4 separate regions of the Homo sapiens genome follow, and all the other regions are linked to region 1. Evidence: fine-mapped expression QTL. A gene starts in region 1. Each other region holds a variant in brackets. All regions are shown on one strand. Distances are between the middles of the regions. Region 1 holds the start of PPHLN1 (periphilin 1). Region 2 overlaps PRICKLE1 (prickle planar cell polarity protein 1). Region 3 has its middle 170 kb from the start of GXYLT1. Region 4 overlaps PPHLN1 (periphilin 1).

Region 1 (5,000 bases):
CCAAAAGCATATAATTATGCCTGTTTCCTTACTGTGCCACAAACAGACTAACACATACTACCACGGAGCTGTTTATTTTCCAAACGGGATATCTTTTTCCATTCTCTCATTCAACATCCAACGGTCCATCAAGGCCCAACTCAAAACCTATTATTCTCCACAAAGCCCATTATATAAACCCTACAAGACTTAAAACAGATTCCAAACTAGTGACTGATAGGCCATATGAGACTTGTGTTTGACCCACTTTTTTTTTTTTAATAAAATTCTATTCCACTGACAACATTTAAAAACTGGGAGAGGATGCTTTTTAAAAAATGGTATTTCCAACTTTTTTTGAAAAAATTAGATGTTCTGGCAAAACTGGGATCATATTCTCACATAGCCACAATCAGCTGTAGCTGAGTGGCAGGTGACCCCTTCTAAGGGTGAAGTATTCATTAACGTTAACTGCCTGATCTCTGCAGCATACCTTCAGCACCTGCAATCATTCAAGAAATAACTGACTGTCTTATGTGCCAAGAACTGTATTAGCTACTGGAGTTACAAAGATAAACGAGACAAACACAGTCCCTCACCGACAGTCTCGCTTAGTAGGGATGGCAAAGAAGCAATTAAGATACATGTGATAAATGCCGTGAGGGAAGTGCAGGACAGCTAAGAGTACATAGCAAAAATACCTAACTCTATGGAAGTTAGGGTATACCCCTCAAGTAAAGTGACAGCTAAACTCAGATCTTTAATAGAAGTTATCCAGAAAAAGATAGGAGGAAACAGGGAGCTCAAATGTCCCAGAGAGAGAAAAGAGCCTTTGTGAAGATACTGAGGGAAGAAAGTATTCTGAGGAATTGAAATCCGTTCAACATGGCTACAGCCATGCCCAACCTTTAAATGCAGGGTCAGAGAAAGGGCTCAACTGAAATGGCTGGCAGGAAAATCTACGTGTTATCAATAGTTAAGGTTAGGAGATGAAGGAGAATTTCACTAAAGAAGTTGAATATGTAAAATAGTTTAAGCAGGAAATAGAGGTTTCAGAAAGCACAGATGGGGTGTTGAGGGGTTAAATGGGGAAGAAACGAAGAAGCAGTGATAGCCTAAGTCGAAAGAAAGCACAAAGCAGCATGGAAATGAGACTATAGCACAGAAGACCACAGAAGCTTACATCTTGGGCGGTAACCAAGGATAACAGAGATGTAAAGCATGGTAAGTTTGGCTGGCCACAAGTATGCCTAGAGAATTAGTGCCAGCGGTCTCCTGTCGGCCACGGAGGCATTCAGGCCTCTCAAAATTCAGCTGCGCCCTGGATGGATTGTACTTCCGTCTCTATAGAAGACATCGGCTTCACTCTGGATTGATTGTGCAGGCTCCAGGAGAGGCTGTGGGTTCCAGGCTGCTGGAACGCAGGCTCCCAGGGAGTGGTTAGAGGCCTGGTCTGTATGTGCTGGTAGGCAGAAGTATAAATTACCTTGCATTACGTTCTGATTTTTCTGTAGGAATGGTGGGCATGTTATGGCCTCTTAGAGAAAAAGCAGTGCGTAGCCATTATAGATTTACAGGAAGAGAAAAGGTGCCAAGAAGATCAACACTTGTCCATACCCATACTAAAGATGAGTCATTCTGTGAATCCAACTCTCCCCAAGTTGACCTCGTCTCCCCAACTAGACTGAGATCTTCACCAGAAAACAAAACAAAACAAAACATAAAAGGTCTGTTTATTTTGTAGTTCCCAAAGTGCCTAATAGCTGGGTACCGTGAACACCTTCAGTAAAATTACCGACTTCCTGACTCCTCTCGGGTCACTGAAGTTACCTAGCTCAGTCGTCTTCTTGCATATTAAGGCGCTACAGAGAGGCGAACCCCTATCTTAGACTCAATACTTCCCTTTATTCCAAACTCCACTGCGTCTCTCCACCCTCAACCGCATGGGCAGAATTGTCACACAATTCAAAGGCAGGAGAATCCAGGACCCGACACAGAAAACTCCCGCCCACTCCCCCCCGTTTAGCAGCCCGCACACGCTCTGCATCCATCTCTGGGAAAGGTAAAAAGCGCTCACCGACTCTGGCCCTCCGGGAGACCCCGTAAATGCAGCCGTCCGCTCGCCGCCGTTATCCCAGGTAGGTACTTCCGGCGCGCGCAATGACGTTAGCGAAGCGCTCGCCTCTGGGCCCGCCTTCGGGGCCCGGATCTCAAACAGTCGGGAAGAAGCACCGTGGCTGCTATTATCTGCTCTCCGCGCCTGACCCCTCCCAGGACTCGTGATGCCAAGGCCGCTGCGAGCGGCTACGAAGAGTCGGGGTTGAGCCCCAGCTGAGCCGAGGGCTCGCACTCTTCTGGTCTCCCAGGCCCAACCCACCTGAAGGTAAACGCCTCCTCAGCTGCGGCCTTCTCTCCTGCGGGGCCCCCTCCCCAGACTCGGCTGCCAAAACGCTCTGCCCCTCTCTCCCGCCACCCTTTTTATTCCAGGACCTTAACCTCTGCCTGCCTTCGCGGCTCTCAGCAGAACGTGTAACGCATAGTTTCAAATGAGAAACTTAAAAAGCGACGTATCTATGTTGAGTTCCTGAAGTTTTCTAAATAATTCCCCCATAACACCAAACATGAGGCAGTTTTCTCATTCCTTCACGAATTGGCATGCCATAGAGTCAGTATTTTTCCATTTGTGATGGTTGATCTTCCCATCTCAAATACACACCGCACGCTCTTTTTAAATCAGAAATTTGAATTTGGTTGAGCCTGATATTTTCACGGTAATTTGCTGACTTTGTAAGATAAGATGTGAAAATTACTGATTACATTTGTAAACTTTATATACATATACACACATACCTACAGGTCTGTCTCTTCGAGGCACCAAGCCTATTTATATAATGTATCATTTCATAATTTGGCAATAAGCAAAATTAGCGTTTCGAAAGAAGTTTATATTGTCGATACATAAAGCTTAAATTTACTCCTTAACATCATACTAAAAGGGGAAAAGAAAATTTTCCTCTTAACACACCACTCCAGAGAAAAAAAATATTAAGACAAGCAAAAAAGGTACCCAGCCATAGTACAGGCATGCACAGCATAACAACTTTTTGATTAACAACAAACCACATATACCACAGTGGTCTCCTAAGAGTGTAATACATTGTACCATATTTTTAGTGTACGTTTTCTGTGTTTAGCTATGTAAATATTTACCATTGTGTTTCAACTGTCTACATTATTCACTACATTAACATGCTGTACAGGTTGTAGCCTAGGAGCAATAGGCTAGACCATCTAGGTTTGTCTCAGTACACCCTGTGATGTCTGCACTGTGAAATCACGTAACACTCAGAACATACCTCCTTCATTAAGCATAGCATGACTGTGTATTAGCAAAAATCAGTGGCTAAGGTTCTGTCTGAGTCCCCATGCTCTTTCTGACCTGGGTGAGCAAGGTGCAGGTAATGTACATATACAGTACATATTCAATAGAGCATTTTTTTTGCTCATGGTCTGAGTGGAAGTTAGGAGTAGCCTCAGGGTTTTTCCTTCATCTGTTCAAAACCCGTCTCCCTACCCATACAATCTGGCACTGAAAGTGTTGGTATAAAGAATACTTGAAAGAAGAAGAACCAAAAAAGAATTTTTTTTAAGTGGTGACTGGGAAAAAGGAATTCCTTAATTCAGCCTGCTGGAGTCATTGTTCCTAACTTCCTAAAATGTAAGGAAGGTGTACACATCTGGCATAATTAAATCGGTGATTGTTAATACTTTATTGGTTTTTGTTTTTTGTTTTTTTCCAAATAATACCCAGACTGGTCTGATGTATTGGTTTTATTTGGAATTAATAATACTTGGTTTAGGCCAGGTGTGGTGATTCATGCCTGTAATCCCAGCACTTTGGGAGGCTGAGGCAGGTGGATCATTTGAGGTCAGGAGTTCAAGACCAGCCTGACCAACATGGTGAAACACTGTCTCTACTAAAAATACAAAATTAGCCAGGCATGGTAGTGGATGCCTATAATCCCAGCTACTCGGGAGGCTGAGGCAGGATAATTGCTTGAACCTGGGAAGCAGAGGTTGCAGTGAGCCGAGATCACGCCATTGCACCCCAGCCTGGGCAACAAGAGGGAAACTCCGTCTCAAACAACAAAAAAAGAATCCTGGTTTAGACTGATTGCTGATAAGTTTGTTTTCACTTTTAGAAATGAGTGGTGGATTGGCTCCAAGTAAGAGCACAGTGTATGTATCCAACTTGCCTTTTTCCCTGACAAACAATGACTTGTACCGGGTAAGTAAATCTTATCGAGTGACTGCTATTTGAGATACAGATAACCTTAAGCAAATAGTTCTCCCTGGCAAATTCTTTTTTCCTTTTTTTTTTTTTCTTTTTTTGAGACAGTCTAATTCTGTCACTGAGGCACGAGGCTGTAGTGCAGTGGCACTATCATGGCTCACTGCAGCCTCCCCGCCCCCTCAGGTGATCCTCCCACCTCATCCTCCCAAGTAGCTGGGAATACAGGTGTGTGCCACCATGCCTCTACAAGCTACCTGGGAGACTGAGGTTGGAAGATTGCTTGAGCCTAGGAGGTCGAGGCGACAGTGAGCCAAGGTCACACCACTGCACTCCAGCCTGGGTGACAGAATGAGACCCTGTCTCAAAAAAAAAAAAGAAAAAAAAATAGAAGCTATATTTATTGAACATTTAAGTCAAATTATGTGTTAGATACTAAGGAGATGCTAAGATGTTAGGTGCTAAGGAGAAAAAATAACGCAGGAAAGGTGGGCTATTGAACGTTAAGTTGGGAATGGAAGTGAAATTTTACATAGGGCGGTCAGAAATGCCATTATTGAGAAGGTGACTTTTGAATAAAGACCTGAAACGAGTAAGAGGCACCTGTGCAAATTCTAGAGGACAAACATTTCAGAAAAAGAGGGGTAATCTTAGGTAAGCCCACTCGAGGTGCCTTATACGACCTATTTACATCATGGTAAGGACTCTGGCTTTCACTCTGCATGAAACA
Region 2 (7,833 bases), 130 kb before region 1:
GACCTGAAACCAGAGCAAAGTGTTCGGGATTCGATGGATTCTTTGGCATTGTCCAATATCACAGGTACGTAATCTAGGGATTATGGGGTATTTGAAAAAAGGAGCTACTAAAAAGTGTATTCAAAAAATTGCAATTCAAGCCAGGCGCAGTGGCTCATGCCTATAATTCCAGCACTATGGGAGGCTGAGGTGGGCAGATCATTTGAGGTCAGGAGTTCGAGACCAGCCCAGGCAACATGGCGAAACCGCGGCTCTACTAAAAATACAAAAATTAGCTGGGCATGGGCCTGTGATCCCAGCTACTCGGGAGGCTGAGGCAAGAGAATTGCTTGAACCCAGGAGGCAGAGGTTGTAGTGAGCCAAGATTGCGCCACTGCACTCCAGCCTGGGCAACAGAGCAAGACTCCATCTCAAAAAAAAAAAAAATTGCAATTCAGCATGAGTAGGAGTTGTGTGTTATTCAAAACCATGGATCAAGGGAAGGAAGGAACCTCACTTAAATACCAAACACTAGCAAAACAAACACATGTGTGAGGTGAGTGCATGTGCATAAAATATATTTACAGTGCAGTCTTTAGGGATAGGTTTTATTACCCTGTTTTGAAGAGAAGGAAATTGATTGGAGGAAGGAGTGTACAACTGGATTGTGTCTGAAAGATATTGTACGCTTGAATTATTCTGTATGTATTCTAAGATACCAAAATTGGCCCACACACTTTACAAGCTCTTTTTTTTTTTGAGGTGGAGTTTCGCCCTTGTCGCCCAGGATGGAGTGCAATGGCGCAGTCTCACCTCACTGCAACCTCCATCTCCCGGGTTCAAGTGATTCTTCTGCCTCTGCCTCCCCAGTAGCTGGGATTACAGGTGCATACCACCATACCTGGCTAATTTTTGTATTTTTAGTAGAGATGGGGTTTCGCCATATTGGCCAGGCTGGTCTCGAACTCCTGACCTCAGGTGATCCACCCGCCTCAGCCTCCCAAAGTGCTGGGATTATAGGCATGAGCCACCACGCCTGGCCACAAGCTCATTTTTTTTTTTAAACATCTTCCTGAATTTCCCTGTGACAGTAGCTCAAAAACAGCTGAATACTTTTTATTTAGATTCTAAAATATTACTGTAATGTTTTCTTTTTTTTCCTAGTTTTTTGTTTTGTTTTGAGATGGAGTTTCACTCTTGTCACCCAGGTTGGGGTGCAATGACGCGATATCAGCTCACTATAACCTCTGCCTCTCAGGTTCCTGAGTTTAAGCGATTCTCCTGCCTCAGCCTCATGAGTAGCTGGGATTATAGGCGCCTGCCACCACGCCCAGCTAATTTTTGTGAGACAGGCTGGTCTCAAACTCCTGACCTCAGGTGATCCACCTGCCTTGGCCTCCCAAAGTGCTGGGATTACAGGTGTGAGCCACTGCCCCTGGCCTACTTTAATGTTTTCAAAGCACAGTCATACCAGTTATCCACATTTTATCTTTAAAATGACCCTGAGCTATATAGAGTGGATGATATGATTGCATTTCACAAATGAGGAAACTTGAATTACCAAAAGGCTAAATGCCAAACATTACATAGGTTCTAAAGGCAAGATTAGGCCTAGAACCTAGGACATTATGCAAATTATTTGCAACAAGTCTTTGGATTATAGAAATGTTGCTGTTGCATGGCTAGTTTTATAGTCAAACTACTGACATCCAGCCCTTTGATGAAGGTAATGCTTCTGTAATGTAGACAGGAAAGGCTTAGTAGCTGCTTCCTGCCAGGAATAACTTGTGCCAGACACTGCAGTGACAAGGAAGGGTACGGCAAAGCTACCCCCCCGGCTTCTGTGGACTTGTCAAAGATAAGGCCGGCAATAAAGGGGAGTTGAGGAAGAATGGTGGGTGAGACTGAGTAAGCACCTTTTGTCTGCCAGGCCCAGTGCTAGGAGTTTTAAATTTAATATCAGAAATAGACATAATTTGGCCAGGTGTGGTAGCTCACACCTGCAGTCCCAGCACTTTGGGAGGCCCAAAGCAGGTGGATCACCTGAAGTCAGGAGTTCGAGACCAGCCTGGCCAACATAGCAAAACCCTGTCTCTACTAAAAATACGAAAATTAGCCAGGCATGGTGGCATGTGCCTGTAATTTCAGCTACTCGGGAGGCTGAGGCAGGAGAATCACTTGAACCTGGGAGGCGGAGGTTGCAGTGAGCCGAGATCATACCACTGCACTCCAGCCTGAGTGACAGAGCAAGACTCTGTCTCAAAAAAAATAAATAAAAGAATTAAACATAACTTGGTACACATTTAAGTGTTAGGGGCTGACATTCCTTGACAATAATAAGCTGAAAAATAGGCCCCCTTTAAAAAGTATGAAGTTATATAGGGCCGGGCGCGGTGGCTCACACCTGTAATCCCAGCACTTTGGGAGACCGAGGCGGGCAGATCACGAGGTCAGGAGATCAAGACCATCCTGGCTAACACAGTGAAACCCCGTCTCTACTAAAAATACAACAAATTAGCCAGGCGTGGTGGCGCATGCCTGTAATCCCAGCTACTCGGGAGGCTGAGGTGAGAGAATGGCATGAACCCAGGAGGCGGAGCTTGCAGTGAGCTGAGATGGTGCCACTGCACTCCAGCCTGGGCGACAGAGCGAGACTCCATCTCAAAAAAAAATAAGTACGAAGTTATGTAGTCTCCAGTTGACAACAGTATCACTTTGTCTATAGGGCTATATGTATTTATCTTAACATGCCTGGGTCCTATTATATCAAAAGAGATCAATATCTGTTTTGTTAAATGTTTCAATAGAAGATTAATCTGGAAGTGGCATATTTTACACGTTGAAGGCAGAAAAGACTGGATGAAGATCTAGGTCAGGGGTTGAGCAAACCTTTTCTATAATGGGCTCGATAGCCCTTTTTAGGCCTACGGTCTCTGGTGTGACTACTTAGCTCTGCCACTGTAGAAAGCAGCTATAAACAATATGTAAACAAATAGGTGTGGCTGTTCCAATAAAACTTGATACACAAACAAGCTGTTGAGCTGTAGTTTGCTGACCACTAGCCTCAGTATAAGATGAGGAAGACTAGCTCATGATGGAGACCAAGGAGGGACTGATGTGAAAGATCTCCAAATGAAGCAGTGTGGCTTTAATGAATTGAGGAGCAGAAGCTTCTACATCTTATGTTAATGAATGAACAGGCTGCTGTGAAGAGCTCTTAAAGTTTTGCTGCTCATGCCATGTGCCGTAACTACTTAACTAATCTTTGACTCCAGGCTTATAAGAGAACCTGTGCCCCAGGCCAGGTGCAGTGGCTCATACCTGTAAACCCAGCACTGTGGGAGGCCGAGGTGGGTGGATCACCTGAGGTCGGGAGTTCGAGACCAGCCTGACCAACATGGAGAAACCCCGTCTTTACTAAAAATACAAAAGTAGCCAGGTGTGGTGGCACATGCCTGTAATCCCAGCTACTCAGGAGGTTGAGGCAGGAAAACTGCTTGAACCTGGGAGGTGGAGATTGTGGTGTGCCGAGATAGCGCCATTGCACTCCAGCCCGGGCAACTAGAGCAAAACTCTGTCTCAAAACAAAACAAAAAAACAAAACAAAAAAGGCTGTGCCCACCCCTTATAACAATAACTGCATTTATACCACTTCTCAATTGGCATAGATACATGTTGGCTTTCCCTATGGGTTTTAATCAAATATTGAGATTGGAAATTTTCTTTGAAATATTTCCTTTCAGTAGCTTACTTTTAAGTACTGTCGAATATTAGGATGATTGAGAAGCACATCTTGTTTTGGCCTCTCTTCTAGGGGCTTCGGTGGATGGAGAAAACAAGCCAAGGCCATCATTGTATTCTCTGCAAAATTTTGAGGAGATGGAAACAGAAGATTGTGAGAAGATGAGCAATATGGGAACTTTGAACTCTTCCATGCTGCACAGGAGTGCAGAGTCCTTAAAGAGTCTAAGTTCAGAGTTGTGTCCAGAGAAAATCCTGCCTGAAGAGAAGCCAGTACATCTGCCAGTGCTCAGAAGGTCCAAGTCTCAATCCAGACCCCAGCAGGTCAAGTTTTC[T/C]GATGATGTCATTGACAATGGGAACTATGACATTGAAATCCGGCAGCCTCCGATGAGTGAAAGGACTCGGAGACGCGTCTACAATTTTGAAGAGAGGGGATCCAGGTCTCATCACCACCGCCGCCGGAGAAGTAGAAAGTCCCGCTCCGACAATGCCCTGAATCTTGTTACAGAAAGAAAATACTCTCCCAAGGACAGACTGCGGCTGTACACCCCCGATAACTATGAGAAATTTATACAGAATAAAAGTGCCCGGGAGATCCAAGCATACATCCAGAATGCTGATCTCTACGGACAGTACGCCCATGCCACTTCCGATTATGGCCTGCAGAACCCAGGAATGAATCGGTTTCTGGGACTCTACGGCGAGGATGATGATTCCTGGTGTTCTTCCTCCTCCTCCTCTTCCGACTCGGAAGAAGAAGGATATTTTCTTGGACAACCAATCCCTCAACCCCGGCCACAGAGATTTGCCTACTATACAGATGACCTTTCTAGTCCACCATCTGCACTTCCCACCCCTCAGTTTGGTCAGAGGACAACAAAATCCAAGAAGAAAAAGGGACACAAGGGCAAAAATTGTATTATTTCTTAACCAAGTAGTGATGCAGAGCATTTGTTTAAAACTTAGCCATTAACCGTCTGAATCGTTTCCTTTTCTTCCGTAGGAAAGTTGTGAAAATAGTTTAAAGTGCTTTCTTTGCCCATGTAAATGAGAACTCAACTGCTGTTTACAGTGTCAGATTAACATTTGAAAGGTGTGATTTCTCCAATTTACCCTCTTTGGATGGTGCCAGGTGGACGTGACATCTCGTGCCTGTCCGGTGCGGGTGCGTTACAGATGGACGTAGCTGCTTTGGTTTTCCAGTCCTCAAGGGAATACTGAAGATGCTGACTGAAGGGGATTGGATGTTGATTTTAGAAGATGGAGAACTCCAGCCACCTTTGTAAAGCACTAGTGTTTGTCATTTATGTAAGTCAGGTCGGCTCAGGTCTTGATAGTCCGTCTTGGTGTGAGGCATGCCTGTCACGATGACCTAGCTAACACTGTGCATCTTATTGTGAGGCCAGCTTGTCCCCTCGAACCCTCTTTGGCCAGGTAAACATTGTATTGTATCAGCGCCAGCTACAGATTGAAAAAAAAAAACAAAAAACATTGCTATTTATAACTTAGTATTTCATAGACTTAAGTGTATTCCTAATTTAACGGTGCAAATATTAATGTATATACTGTACAGTTCAGATTTTAAAGCTGATATTTTTATATCCCTGAATTGTAAGCCGTTTGTTACGCTGCAGTGCTAGATTTGCCAGGGAACCAGAATTTATGGATGAACTGATTGCTTATATTTTAGTCAGGGTTTATAAATGTAGATGGTCAAATTTACATTGCCTAGTGATGGAAAATTCAACTTTTTTTGATTTTTTTTTCCAATATTAAAAAAGGCTCTGTATGCATGGTGGGGCTATGTAAGTACTCTTTAAAACTATGGCCCTATTAATCTTACAAGTGTTACTTATGGGTCAAGCAATGTAAACTGTATAAATGTAAAAACAACCCCTCCACACACATAACCCCTGGAATATATGGTAAAAACAAGTAGAAGCTGTTTCAGCGAGTGGGTTTTTTCCCCCTGCCTGCGGGGGGTGCCTTTCTCATTTTCAGCAAGGTGATGATTATCTCATGGGAAATGACAAAGATCTGCTTTTGTGGCAGAGGACTTTGTAGATTTGTTATTTTAAGAGAGGTTATTCCTTTTTATTCCTTCCCTCCCACTAATTTGTTGGCCTTTAACAGCAATTTTGAAAACTGGGTCTTCTGGTTATGTTTTTGTTTTAAAATCTTTAAATTAGAGGATGCTGTGCCATTGAGTACTGTAAGTTAATATGAGGTTCTGGTTCAAGGAAAACTTACGTTGGATCTGAACCAATGAGCAGATATTTTGATATGTGCCACTCTTGCATATACATCTCAGTCCTAACTAAAGGTTCTAGTGGCATCCAGGACCTTTAGGGAGGCATTTAATAAACACTTAATAAATAACAAAACTACCTTTCTGAATATAAATCTTTGCAAATGTATCCAGATAACTTCCATTTTGTGCCTGTGTTCAGGCATGATTTATTTTGCAGTTGCCCTACCATTAACAGACCTCCATTTGTCTCGTGTGTCCACACGCCCCACTTGTAGGCCAGAAATAGGGCTTCAGACACAGAGGCTTATTTTTTCCATATAGACTGGAGTGGGGAAAATTTGGCCTTAGGGAGGACAGACACAAGTCCAATGGGTAAACCAGCGAGTAGTAGGTGGACAGCCGTCCCACACAAGGGTTTGTATCTGGGCTACACAGATTCCCTTCAGAAAAGCACCAATGGTGAGAGAGTTCTTCACTCAGTAACTTACATTCCCTGGTCTGGTGCCTTTAAAAAACCATCAGCAATGAAAAGGAAGTGCATACACATGACAAAAAAATTCAAATAGGGCAAAAGTCAGAGACAGCATCTCCTTTCCATTCTTCATCCCAGTCCCCCAGGTCCTCTCCCCAGAAGTAACCACTCTTACCCAGTTTTAGTGTCTCCTTCAGACATTCAAAGCACATTCGTATAAATGTGTCTTTTAAAAGTGGTAGTGACCTATATGTGCTGTGACATGCTTTTTTCCCTTTGTATGTGGACATTTCACGTTAGTGCATATAGGTCTACCCATTCTTTCAGTGACTGCTTAATAGCCTACTCCTAATGATGGAGTTGACTTTCCTCATACATTATGCTACACTGGCACATGTGCACATAAATCGGGAGCAGCGTAGTTACTGGGACAAAGGTTACGTATTTAAGACTGATGGATATTGCCAATTTTCCTCCAAAAGAAATTCTCCTGATTTACATTAATGTAATGTAAATGAGAGTGTTTGTTCCATCACAACCTCTCAATGTATTAGCAGATTTCTTGATTTTGAAGAAATTTTCAGAACCTGTGCTGCCACAAGTGGGCATCCTTTTAGAAAAGACTGTTGCAATATGTTGCTTATAAAGGATGGATAATAAATAGTAAACAGGTGATACTTAGCCTGAAGAAATGCAGGTATAAGGTGAAGGTACTGCCCTCACTTTTCAAGTACATTCTCAAAAGATAGGGGTAACATAGCCTGCCAAAGGCTTAAGGAAATGCAGATATTTATTCACAATAATAATGTGACTTTCTTTTCCTTTTTTTTTTTTTTTTGAGATGGAGTTTCGCTCCTGTTGCCCAGGCTGGAGCGCAACGGCACAATCTCAGTTCACTGCAACCTCTGCCTCCCGGGTTCAAGCAATTCTCCTGTCTCAGCCTCCGGAGTAGCTGAGATTACAGGTGCCTGCCACCATGCTCGGCTAATTTTTTATATTTTTAGTAGAGACAGTGTTTCACCAAGTTGGCCAGGCTGGTCTCGAACTCCTGACCTTCAGGTGATCCACCTGCCTCAGCCTCCCAAAGTGCAGGGGATTACAGGCATGAGCCACTGCGTCTGGCAATAATGTAACTTTGAAGCTTAAAAATTAATCCCAGTTTGTAGCAATAACAGAAGACTATCTACAACGGAAGAAAGAAGCAACTGCCTTACAGTTCTGTAAAGAATTGGCAAGAAAATAAAGCCTATAGTTGCCGACTTAGTCTATTCTCACATTACTACAAAGAACTGCCGAGACTGGGTAATTTATAAAGGAAAGAGGTTTAACTGACCCAATTCCACATGGCTGGGGAGGGAGGCCTTAGGAAATACAATCATGGCAGAAGGGG
Region 3 (7,833 bases), 350 kb after region 1:
CTAGATCCCCAAGTGACTCACATGTACTTTAAAGATCTGTGCCCTGAGGTGGAGGACAAATGATGGCTGAGCAGAGAGAAGATCTGGGCTCTGGTCCCGGATTTGGCACTAGTTTGGCTGTGTAAACTCAGACAAGTTGCTTAACCTCTCTGGACCTTAGTGTCTTCATTCATGGAACACAGAAGTTGGATTCTTACAGTAGTGATTAGTGAACACATAAATATTTGTTATATGCATCTGGATTTGAACAACCCAGACCTACTTAACTCCTAAATTAGAAAACTCTCCTTTGATCATTTACTAGCTTTGTAACTTTGATCAGATGACTTTCAGTTTTCTCATGAGGGGTTATTGTGAAGAATAAGAAAAACAGCATTTACAAAGTGGCTGGCTCAGGGTAGACTCTCTTTAAATGGTAGTTGTTATTTTTTGTTTTCCTAAAATCTAAGCTTCTGATAAGACTGTACATTAGAATACATCCTCACGAAAAGAACTGGATCTGGATATCCTTTTTGTTACTGGAAGAATCCTTGTGTCTGGAGTTGAAAAGCATGTAGACTCTTAGGTGAAAGAATGTATTTGACTCCTGATTCCTTTTTATTTAGATGATTTTTAGCTTGGAGATTTCCTACAAGTCCAGTCTGCATCTACTCAGCACCTAAATCTTGTGTCTTAGGATAGAGCTATCAGTTACAAGGAAAAACATCAGGAAAAACATCTGCAAACAGGATACATCAATATGGTTTTCATGGTTAAGCAAGCTAAGCTTTGATCTTTGGAAAACAATGGTGACTGAAGTTCAGAGCTTGAGGTTTTCTGTGCAGGCTGGATTTTCCCAGTTAACAGAGGCACGCGACAGTTCTGAATCTATAAAGTCTTTGTTGGATATTTTTTGTTGTTCTTTGGTCCCAGCACTCCATCAGATTTACATGTGGGAGATATAATTAGCCATAGACTGATTGCAAAGTATCAGCCATAATTTAAAAATATGAATTAACATAAAATGGCAAGCATTAAAAGTTAATGTTAACTTGATGCTCATTTATTTTTGCATCCAAATGAGCCTTATTAAGTTACTCAGTCCATCTAAACATCAGGGTTTTTTTTCTCATATGCCAAGTTGTGTTAACAATTTCTTATTCTAAATGCTGATAACACTTTTGAAATGCGCAGGTCCAGTCTGCTGTTGATAATCAATTTTCAGCTTCTTCTGTGACCTGGTTTAAACTGACATCACTATACCGTTTGGCATCTTAAAGTCCTGAGTACTTTTTAAAGGGCTTTCTAATGGAAATTATATTTTGACTGTCAAGGCCCTGTGGTTTCCTTCACTGTCAGCATGATCAATAACTTTGGGCAGGTGGATGGAGTGCAGATGGGGATGGAATGTATGGAAATATAGCAGGCCTGTTAGATGTGGGCTTAAATAAGCAAATCAAGCCAATTGGCTTAGAATTATGATGGTTGGCTTTCTAATGCATATTCAGGGAAGGCTGAAAAAAATGTATGAAATTTAATTGTACCATAAAGCTGTCACCAGAAAATATATACTGAATATCAAGCAGGGTAACATGTCTTCTGGAGAGTTAATCTGTGAAAGCTAAAAAAATTCAAAGAATGTTATAGTTGAATAAGCAATAGGAAGAAATAGGTGGTGCTAGGGAACAGTTTTCAGAACAACGAACAAATTGCACAAACTCAAATTTAATGAATGAAGCACAATTGATGGCTTATTGTCATTAGCAATTTCCCTATTGAATATGTAGAAAAATTTGGGAAAAAAGAGTGTAAAAAGTGAGGCAATTTTAACATTTTCTATGCCAAAAATTTAAGACAATGTCTCCACAATATTTTAGATTATCATTAATGTTGTAATACTAGATGCTTTAGTATCAATGAGTGGAGTTTTGCTACTTTATAGTGAAAATCAGTGTTTCTGTAAGCCAGACTGAAAATCCCTGATACTTTATCTAGTAGGGAGATTGCTTCTCAAACTTCAATGTGCGTATGAATCACCTGCGGATCTTAAGGTATAGATTTTTTTGGTATTTTTTTATGGAGGTAAAATTCACATAACATAAAATTAATCATTAACCATTTTAAAGTGCACAACTCAGTGGCATTTAATATATTTACAGTGTTGTGCAACCATCACCTCTATTTAGTTCCAAGACATTTTTTCCTTCAAGGAATCTCTGCATCCATCAAGCAGTCACTCCTCATTCCTCCCTTGCCCTCAGCTCCTGACCACCACCCGTCTGCTTTCTGTTGCCATGGATTTGCCTGGTCTTGATGCTTCAGATAAATAAAGCCATACAGTACTTGACCTTTCATATTCTGGCTTCTTTCACTAAAATGTGGATTGTGATTCTGAAAGTTTGGGGACAGAGGCTGATTTTCTTGCATTTTTAACTCTCTCTCAGATGATGCTGATGCTGCTGGTGTATGGATCTTGGATGAGGCTGCATCTCCTGGGTGGAGGTGCTGCAGCCCAGTGAGCATCAGGGAAGACTGGAGCACTGATTCTCTGACTTCCTGTTGAACCACTGATAGGATCAAGCGGACTTGTTGGCTTATTGGTGCTCAGAGATATTGAGGATCCCCAGTAGATCCTTTTCACAGAATTGTGTAAAACTTCAGAACATGGGGGGAGGGCAGCCAAGATGGCCAAATAGGAATAGCTCCGGTCTACAGCTCCCAGCGTGAGCGACGCAGAAGATGGGTGATTTCTGCATTTCCATCTGAGGTACAAGGTTCATCTCACTAGGGAGTGCCAGACAGTGGGCACAGGACAGTGGGTGCAGCGCACCGTGTGCGAGCCGAAGCAGGGTGAGGCATTGCCTCACTCGGGAAGTGCAAGGGGTCAGGGAGTTCCCTTTCCTAGTCAAAGAAAGGGGTGACAGACAGCACCTGGAAAATCGGGTCACTCCCACCCCAATACTGCGCTTTTCGGATGGGCTTAAAAAACAGCGCACCAGGAGATTATATCCCGCACCTGGCTTGGAGGGTCCTACGCCCACGGAGTCTCGCTGATTGCTAGCACAGCAGTCTGAGATCAAACTGCAAGGCGGCAGTGAGGCTGGGGAAGGGGCACCCGCCATTGCCGAGGCTCGCTTAGGTAAACAAAGCAGCCGGGAAGCTCGAACTTGGTGGAGCCCACCACAGCTCAAGAAGGCCTGCCTGCCTCTTTAGGCTCCACCTCTGGGGGCAGGGCACAGACAAACAAAAAGACAGCAGTAACCTCTGCAGACTTAAATGTCCCTGTCTGACAGCTTTGAAGAGAGCAGTGTTTCTCCCAGTATGCAGCTGGAGATCTGAGAACGGGCAGACTGCCTCCTCAAGTGGGTCCTTGACCCCTGAACCCCGAGCAGCCTAACTGGGAGGCACCCCCAGTAGGGGCAGACTGACACCTCACACGGCCGGGTACTCCTCTGAGACAAAACTTCCAGAGGAACGATCAGACAGCAGCATTCGCGGTTCATGAAAATCCACTGTTCTGCAGCCACCGCTGCTGGTACCCAGGCAAACAGGGTCTGGAGTGGACTTCTAGCAAACTCCAACAGACCTGCAGCTGAGGGTCCTGTCTGGTAGAAGGAAAACTAACAAACAGAAAGGGCATCCACACCAAAAACCCATCTGTATGTCACCATCATAAAAGACCAAAGGTAGCTAAAAACATAAAGATGGGAAAAAAAAAACAGAGCAGAAAAACTGGAAACTCTAAAAAGCAGAGCACCTCTCCTCCTCCAAAGGAACGCAGTTCCTCACCAGCAATGGAGCAAAGCTGGATGGAGAATGACTTTGACGAGTTGAGAGAAGAAGGCTTCAGATGATCAAACTACTCCGAGCTATGGGCGGAAATTCAAACCAAAGGCAAAGAAGTTGAAAACTTTGAAAAAAAATTTAGACGAATGTGTAACTAGAATAACCAATACAGAGAAGTGCTTAAAGGAGCTGATGGAGCTGAAAGCCAAGGCTTGAGAACTA[C/T]GTGAAGAATGCAGAAGCCTCAGGAGCCGATGCGATCAACTGGAAGAAAGGGTATCAGTGATGGAAGATCAAATGAATGAAATGAAGTGAGAAGGGAAGTTTAGAGAAAAAAGAATAAAAAGAAACAAACAAAGCCTCCAAGAAATATGGGACTATGTGAAAAGACCAAATCTACGTCTGATTGATGTACCTGAAAGTGACGGGGAGACCAAGTTTTCCAACCAAGTTGGAAAACACTCTGCAGGATGTTATCCAGGAGAACTTCCCCAATCTAGCAAGGCAGGCCAACATTCAGATTCAGGAAATACAGAGAACGCCACAAAGATACTCCTCGAGAAGAGCAACTCCAAGACACATAATTGTCAGATTCACCAAAGTTGAAATGAAGGAAAAAATGTTAAGGGCAGCCAGAGAGAAAGGTCGGGTTACCCACAAAGGGAAGCCCATCAGACTAACAGTGGATCTCTCGGCAGAAACTCTACAAGCCAGAAGAGAGTGGGGGCCAATATTCAACATTCTTAAAGAAAAGAATTTTCAACCCAGAATTTCATATCCAGCCAAACTAAGCTTCATAACTGAAGGAGAAATAAAATACTTTACAGACAGGCAAATGCTGAGAGATTTTGTCACCACCAGGCCTGCCCTAAAAGAGCTCCTGAAGGAAGCACTAAACATGGAAAGGAACAACCGGTACCAGCTGCTGCAAAATAATGCCAAAATGTAAAGACCATCGAGACTAGGAAGAAACTGCATCAACTAACGAGCAAAAGAAACAGGTAACATCATAATGACTGGATCAAATTCACACATAACAATATTAACTTTAAATGTAAATGGACTAAATGCTCCAATTAAAAGACACAGACTGGCAAATTGGATAAAGAGTCAAGACTCATCAGTGTGCTGTATTCAGGAAACCCATCTCACGTGCAGAGACACACATAGGCTCAAAATAAAAGGATGGAGGAAGATCTACCAAGCAAATGGAAAACAAAAAAAGGCAGGGGTTGCAATCCTAGTCTCTGATAAAACAGACTTTAAACCAACAAAGATCAAAAGAGACAAAGAAGGCCATTACATAATGGTAAAGGGATCAATTCAACAAGAAGAGCTAACTATCCTAAATATATATGCACCCAATACAGGAGCACCCAGATTCATAAAGCAAGTCCTGAGTGACCTACAAAGAGACTTAGACTTCCACACAATAATAATGGGAGACTTCAACACCCCACTGTCAACATTAGACAGATCAACGAGACTGAAAGTTAACAAGGATACCCAAGAATTGAACTCAGCTCTGCACCAAGTGGACCTAATAGACATCTACAGAACTCTCCACCCCAAATCAACAGAATATACATTTTGTTCAGCACCACACCACACCTATTCCAAAATTGACCACATAGTTGGAAGTAAAGCTCTCCTTAGCAAATGTAAAAGAACAGAAATTATAACAAACTATCTCTCAGACCACAGTGCAATCAAACTAGAACTCAGGATTAAGAAACTCACTCAAAACTGCTCAACTACATGGAAACTGAACAACCTGCTCCTAAATGACTACTGGGTACATATTGAAATGAAGGCAGAAATAAAGATGTTCTTTGAAACCAATGAGAACAAAGACACAACATACCAGAATCTCTGGGACACATTCAAAGCAATATGTAGAGGGAAATTTATACCACTAAATGCCCACAAGAGAAAGCAGGAAAGATCCAAAATTGATACCCTAACATCACAATTAAAAGAACTAGAAAAGCAAGAGCAAACACATTCAAAAGCTAGCAGAAGGCAAAAAATAACTAAAATCAGAGCAGAACTGAAGGAAATAGAGACACAAAAAACCCTTCAAAAAATTAATGAATCCAGGAGCTGGTTTTTTGAAAGGATCAACAAAATTGATAGACCGCTAGCAAGACTAATAAAGAAAAAAGAGAGAAGAATCAAATAGACACAATAAAAAAATGATAAAGGGGATATCACCACCAATCCCACAGAAATACAAACTACCATCAGAGAATATTACAAACACCTCTACGCAAATAAACTAGAAAATCTGGAAGAAATGGATAAATTCTTCGACACATACACCCTCCCAAGACTAAACCAGGAAGAAGTTGAATCTCAGAATACACCAATAACAGGCTCTGAAATTGTGGCAACAATCAATAGCTTACTAACCAAAAAGAGTCCAGGACCAGATGGATTCACAGTCAAATTCTACCAGAGGTACAAGGAGGAACCGGTACCATTCCTTCTGAAACTATTCCAATCAATAGAAAAAGAGGGAGTCCTCTCTAACTCATTTTATGAGGCCAGCATCATCCTGATACTAAAGCTGGGCAGAGACACAACCAAAAAAGAGAATTTTAGACCAATATCCTTGATGAACATAGATGCAAAAATCCTCAATAAAATACTGGCAAACCGAATCCAGCAGCACATCAAAAAGCTTATCTACCATGTTCAAGTGGGCTTCATCCCTGGGATGCAAGGCTGGTTCAATATACACAAATCAATAAATGTAATCCAGCATATAAACAGAACCAAAGACAAAAACCACATGATTATCTCAATAGATGCAGAAAAGGCCTTTGACAAAATTCAACAACTCTTCATGCTAAAAAGTCTCAATAAATTAGGTATTGATGGGTCATATCTCAAAATAATAAGGGCTATCTATGACAAACCCACAGCCAATATCATACTGAATGGGCAAAAACTGGAAGCATTCCCTTTGAAAACTGGCACAAGACAGGGATGCCCTCTCTCACCACTCCTATTCAACATAGTGTTGGAAGTTCTGGCCAGGGCAATCAGGCAGGAGAAGGAAATAAAGGGTATTCAATTAGGAAAAGAGGAAGTCAAATTGTCCCTGTTTGTAGATGACATGATTATATATCTAGAAAACCCCGTTGTCTCAGCCCAAAATCTCCTTAAGCTGATAAGCAACTTCAGCAAAGTCTCAGGATACAAAATCAATGTACAAAAATCACAAGCATTCTTATACACCAATAACAGACAAACAGAGGGCCAAATCATGAGTGAACTCCCATTCACAATTGCTTCCAAGAGAACAAAATACCTAGGAATCCAACTTACAAGGGACGTGAAGGACCTCTTCAAGGAGAACTACAAACCACTGCTCAATGAAATAAAAAAGGATACAAACAAATGGAAGAACATTCCATGCTCATGGGTAGGAAGAATCAATATCATGAAAATGGCCATACTGCCCAGGGTAATTTATAGATTCAATGCCATCCCCATCAAGCTACCAATGACTTTCTTCACAGAATTGGAAAAAACTACTTTAAAGTTCATATGGAACCAAAAAAGAGCCCACTTCGCCAAGTCAATCCTAAGCCAAAAGAACAAAGCTGGAGGCATCACGCTACCTGACTTCAAACTATGCTACAAGGCTACAGTAACCAAAACAGCATGGTACTGGTACCAAAACAGAGATATAGATCAATGGAACAGAACAGAGCCCTCAGAAATAACGCCGCATATCTACAACTATCTGATCTTTGACAAACCTGAGAAAAACAAGCAATGGGGAAAGGATTCCCTATTTAATAAATGGTGCTGGGAAAACTGGCTCACCATATGTAGAAAGCTGAAACTGGATCCCTTCCTTACACCTTATACGAAAATTAATTCAAAATGGATTAAAGACTTAAATGTTAGACCTAAAACCATAAAAACCCTAGAAGAAAACCTAGGCAATACCATTCAGGACATAGGCATGGGCAAGGACTTCATGTCTAAAACACCAAAAGCAATGGCAACAAAAGCCAAAATAGACAAATGGGATCTAATTAAACTAAAGAGCTTCTG
Region 4 (5,000 bases), 100 kb before region 1:
TATTGGCCAGGCACGGTGGCTCACGCTCATAATCCCAGCACTTTGGGAGGCTGAGGTGGGTAGATCACCTGAGGTCAGGAGTTTGAGACCAGACTGGCCAACATGGTGAAACCCCGTCTCGACTAAAAATACAAAATTTAGCTGGGCGTGGTGGTGGGTGCCTGTAATCCCAGCTATTTGGGAGGCTGGGGCAGAATTGCTTGAACCGGGAAGGCGGAGGTTGCAGTGAGCCAAGATCACACCATAGCACTCTACACGCCAGCCTGGGTACTCCGTCTCAAAAAAACAAAACAAAACAAAACCAAAAAAAGAATATAGTATATGTAATATGTATAGCATACAAAATATGTGTTAACTGACTATGTTATTGATAGGTCAACAGCAGACTATCTGTAGTCAAGTTTTGGGACAGTCAAAAGTTACATTTGAATTTTCAAATGTTAAGGGTGGCGGGGGGACAGCATCACAAATCCCTGAGTTGTTCAAGTATCAACTGTAAGGGTGTGTGTGTGTGTGTGTGACTGTAGGGGTGTGTGTCTGTGTCAGAGACAGAGAGAGAAGAGCAGCTAAAATCGAAGACCCATCACAAAAACACAGTTGATTAGATCATTGGCCTTTGGTGAGCGGCTCAACCTTCAGTCCCTCTCCACCCCTTTTAGAGGTCAAGGGGGTAGGCTGAAAGTTCCAACTCTCTAAACACATGGTTGGTTTCCCTGGGCAATCAGCCCCTAAACAGAGGCTATCCAGGAGCTCCCCCGGCCATTGGTTACCTCATTCACATACAAAAAGACACATCACTTTAAGATTCCAAGCTGTGTGCCAAGAAATGGGGGCAGAAGCCAAATATATATTTCTTATTACATCCAGAAATGGAAAGATAAGTGACAAAACAAATAGAGCAAAAGCTTAATTATAGAATCCAGGTGATGGGTATACAAAAATTTTCAAAATAAAATGAAGATGGATCTGTTCTGCTTTGACCCTGGAGGATGAGCTTTGCATCTTCTCGATATGGGTTAGATATTAATGAATCTGCAAATGCTGACATGAGTGTGAATGACAGATAAATGTGCCTGCCACACAGCTAGAGCTCACCTTCTATGTTAAAGCACTGGAATTGGTCAGAGTACAACAAGCTCTGTTCAAGGACTTTACATTCTAGTAAAAAGACCAACACATTAAAAATAACCAAACAACAAGGCAGAATATGGTAAATGCCATAAAATAAATATAAAGTGTTGTAATTATTCCAAATAAAAGATCATGGGAGTTGCAGGGAGCACTAAGACAGCGTGAACTGTTCTAAGCACCTTGGAAGCAAAAAAGCATAGAGTGTTTAAACAGTAATGAATCTTGGAATATAGGGAAGTTTTGGGAAAGATAGTAGACTGCAATCAAAATGGAGCTAGACATGAGCAGGTAAGGCAAAGACCAAATTCTTAGACTTAAAATAACTTATGGTAGAAACACTGTAGACATTTTTTCTCTCATTCAAAAGGCAATAAACAAACAACTAAAGACTGTTGATTAGGAAAAAAACCAATGTATTCATTGCTCAGTGAATTTTGAGAAAAGTAATTTTGTATTCAATGTCAATTACTGGCTTGGGAAAAGAATTTCTAAGATGCAAAACATATAAAAAGGCTAAATCTAAAGAAAAATATTCATAATGAACACAGGATGAAAGGCAATTAAATACATAATAAAATAGGCTTTAAAGTTCTAAATGCTGAGAAAATGGGTACAAATATTGTGCAATATGATAAAATTTCATTTGGCTTTTGATATTGTCGTGTCTGAGAATAATAAAAATTATTTAATAAAAGCAAGGAGGAGTAGGCTTAATTTGCACATTTCCCAAGTCATGTCCAAAACATCCATCATAATGAAACAGATCACAGTTTAAGATGGCAATTCAGCTCCCTAAACGATATCTGTCACTTAGAAAGTCCCTTAAGTTAAAAAAAAAAAAAAAAAGAAGTTAAAAAGGCAAACTTCATTTTTTT[T/A]AATTAAGTATTAAAACTTTCCATTGGTTATTGGGGAACAGGTGATGTTTGGTTACATGAGTAAGTTCTATGGTGGTGATCTGTGAGATTTTGGTGTACTCATCACCTGAGCAGGCAGTATACACTGCACCCAATATGTGGTCTTTTTTATCCCTCACCCCCCTCCCACTCTTTTCCCCTGAGTCTCCAAAGTCCACTGTGTCTTTCTTATGCCTTTGCACCCCACATAGCTTAGCTCCCACATATGAGTGAGAACATACGATGTTTGGATTTCCATTCCTGAGTTAGTGACTTCACTTAGAATAACAGTCTCCAATCTCACCCCGCTCATTCCAAATGCCACTAATTTGTTCCTTTTTATGGCTAAGTAGTAATCTATTGTATATATACATACCACAGTTTCTTTATCCACTCGTTGACTGATGGACATTTGGGTTGGTCCCATGATTTCACAGTTGCAAGTTGTGCTGCTATAAATATATGTGTACAAGTATCTTTTTCATATAATGACTTCTTTTCCTCTGGGTAGATACCCAGTAGTGGGATTGCTGGATCAAATGGTAGTTCTACTTTTAGTTCTTTAAGGAATCTCCACACCGTTTTCCATAATGGCTGTACTAGTTTACATTCCCACCTGCAGTGTAGAAGTGTTCCCTCTTCACCACATCCATGCCAAACATCTACTGTTTTTTGATTTTTTTGATTACGGCCATTCTTGCAGGAGTAAGGTGGTACTGCATTGTGGTTTTGATTTGCATTTCTCTGATCATTAGTGATGTTGAGCATTTTTTCATATATTTTTTGGCCATTTGTATGTCTTCTTTTTAGAATTGTCTATTCATGTCCTTAGCCCACTTTTTGATGTGATTGTTTTTTTTCTTGCTGATTTGATTGAGTTCGTTATAGATTCTGGGTATTAGTCCTTTGTCAGATGTACAGATTGTAAAGATCTTCTCCCACTCTGTGGGTTGTCTGTTCACTTTGCTGACTGTTCCTTTTGCTGTGTAAAAGCTCTTTAGTTTAATTAAGTCTCAGCTATTTATCTTTGTCTTTATTGCATTTGCTTTTGGGTTCTTGGTCATGAAATCCTTGCCTAAGCCAATGTCTAGAAGGGTTTTTCCTAAGTTGTCTTCTACAATTTTTATAGTTTCAGGTCGTAGATGTAAGTAAGTCCTTAATCCATCTTGAGTTGATTTTTGTATAAGGTGGGAGATGAGGATCCAGTTTCATTCTCCTACATTGGCAGCACCATTTGTTGAATAGGGTGTCCTTTCCCCACTTTATGTTTTTGTTTGCTTTGTCGAAGATCAGTTGGCTGTAAGTATTTGGGTTAATTTCTGGGTTCTCTATTCTGTTCCATTGATCTATGTGCTTGTTTTTATGCCAGTACCATGATGTTTTTGGTGACTATGGCCTTACAGTATAGTTTGAAATCAGGTAATGTGATGCCTCCAGACTTTTCTTTTTGCTTAAAAAGGCAAAATTCTTATGTAAACACTGAATTAATTTTTATATACAGCTATTTCTTACAAAAGAAATATTTGAGAATTATCCAAAGAAAAATTTTAAACACAATAACTTCAAATAAATCTTTTTACAATTTCACAGATGAGGTAGTCCAGTCTTCATGAAATAATTTAATATTATCAGAAAAGTGCAATGTCCTGACTGTACAAAAGGTCACATTTTAGATCTGACTAAGGCTAAAAGAAAGTAATTAACTGGCAACAGCCAGTTCTCGAAGTGAAAAAAAGTCTTACATTGGTTTGAGAAACCTGCACGGCGCGAGATCCACCCAGTTACTCTCCAACAGGAGAGAAATTTGTCAGCAGGAATGACTAAGCGGGAAGCAGCTTAGCTATTTCAAGACCCACCCCCTCCACTTCCTTCCCAGCTCATCTACCACCAAAGAGGTCAGAGACAATTCAATATATAGGTCGCATTATCTTCTGAAGATACAGAAGTTATGTCTCAGAACATAGAAGTTTTAACTGTTACTGGGTCCAATGAGTTGAGTTCTCAATTCAGGGAGGCCTCACCACCTAAGAACAATTTTTGGAGAATGGGGAGGAATCCTAGCAAAGGTCTCCATGTCTAAGGATGGCTGTGGGTTACAATTCTAAAGGTCTTTTTATTTGCTTATTCAAATATAATGACATTTAAAAATTCCTGGCAAATTAGAAGTATTAAGTTACTAACTTAACATTTTCATATAGACCTTTGTATTATTTTATGTACCAGAATCCTCAAAAGCACTCTGGAGTTATTGGCCTTTTTTTATAAAAATAGTGAAGCAGAGAGATTAAAGGAGTTAACTGTAAGAAATACAATAAACATTCATAGCCTAGATTTCAAATTCACTCCTTATCATACTGCTGCTACAAACTCAAGATAATTATTAAAATCCAAAATAGAAATGAAGCCCTGACTGAACTAAATCCTTAGCAAAGATAAATGAACTTGCTTGGTTTTGAAGAGTAGTGTAAAGAAACTGGTTTGGAGGGGTCTGGAAGGCAGGTCATCTGATTATGATTCCTAACTGCCATGAGACAATGCATGAGGGTGTGTGTGTGTGTGTGTGTGTGTGTGTGTGTGTGTGTGTGTGTGTGTGTGTGTGTGGTGTCAAGTCTAATACTGTACTTTAAGTTATTCAAGTCATTCCTCTAGTGAAATTTGAAACGTGGATTATTTTTCCATATAGCTTCAGGGATGCCACTAAGATAGAAATAAATAGGTCAGATCAGCCATCTGCCCCATGCTGGGAAAAGCATTATTATTCTGTAAGCTACTTATGCTTTGGTTGGTTAAAGAGCATTTTATGGTTGAAATGGGACATTTTCAAATTATCCTGCAGAGGCGGCAAGTTCTTCCTTAGTTTCTTTTGACAGATGATCCAGTGGACCAGGCACATTCACTCTACTATCCCATTTCTTTCAATATTAAAATCCTGTATCGTGTATACACACACAGGACCTAGAAGGACACATCAAACTG

Evidence for each region. PIP is the estimated chance that this variant, and not a neighbour inherited with it, causes the effect.
Region 2: its variant is the best candidate, but not a certain one, in a credible set for the expression of PPHLN1 in whole blood (GTEx, PIP 0.68).
Region 3: its variant is the best candidate, but not a certain one, in a credible set for the expression of PPHLN1 in whole blood (TOPMed, PIP 0.68).
Region 4: its variant is the best candidate, but not a certain one, in a credible set for the expression of PPHLN1 in whole blood (TOPMed, PIP 0.87).

The regions. Positions count from the first base shown.
Region 1 is chr12:42,323,286-42,328,285 of GRCh38, reverse strand. It overlaps PPHLN1 (periphilin 1), which reads right to left and starts at 2,119. Exons shown (of 10, transcript NM_201439.2): 1 at 2,057-2,119. It overlaps ZCRB1 (zinc finger CCHC-type and RNA binding motif containing 1), which reads left to right and starts at 2,192. Exons shown (of 8, transcript NM_033114.4): 1 at 2,192-2,362; 2 at 4,182-4,267. The coding sequence starts at 4,184. MIR7851 (microRNA 7851) reads left to right here and starts at 4,427; the gene lies at 4,427-4,586. RefSeq lists an enhancer at 2,447-2,496.
Region 2 is chr12:42,456,626-42,464,458 of GRCh38, reverse strand. It overlaps PRICKLE1 (prickle planar cell polarity protein 1), which reads left to right. Exons shown (of 8, transcript NM_153026.3): 7 at 1-64; 8 at 3,794-7,702. The coding sequence ends at 4,650. Among named protein-coding and RNA genes, the nearest start is that of PRICKLE1, 130 kb to the left of the region's middle. The variant T/C (reference allele first, on the strand shown) is at 4,056.
Region 3 is chr12:41,974,151-41,981,983 of GRCh38, reverse strand. No RefSeq gene overlaps it. Among named protein-coding and RNA genes, the nearest start is that of GXYLT1, 170 kb to the left of the region's middle. The variant C/T (reference allele first, on the strand shown) is at 3,988.
Region 4 is chr12:42,425,798-42,430,797 of GRCh38, reverse strand. The region is part of intron 9 of PPHLN1 (periphilin 1); the gene reads right to left. Among named protein-coding and RNA genes, the nearest start is that of PPHLN1, 100 kb to the right of the region's middle. The variant T/A (reference allele first, on the strand shown) is at 2,007.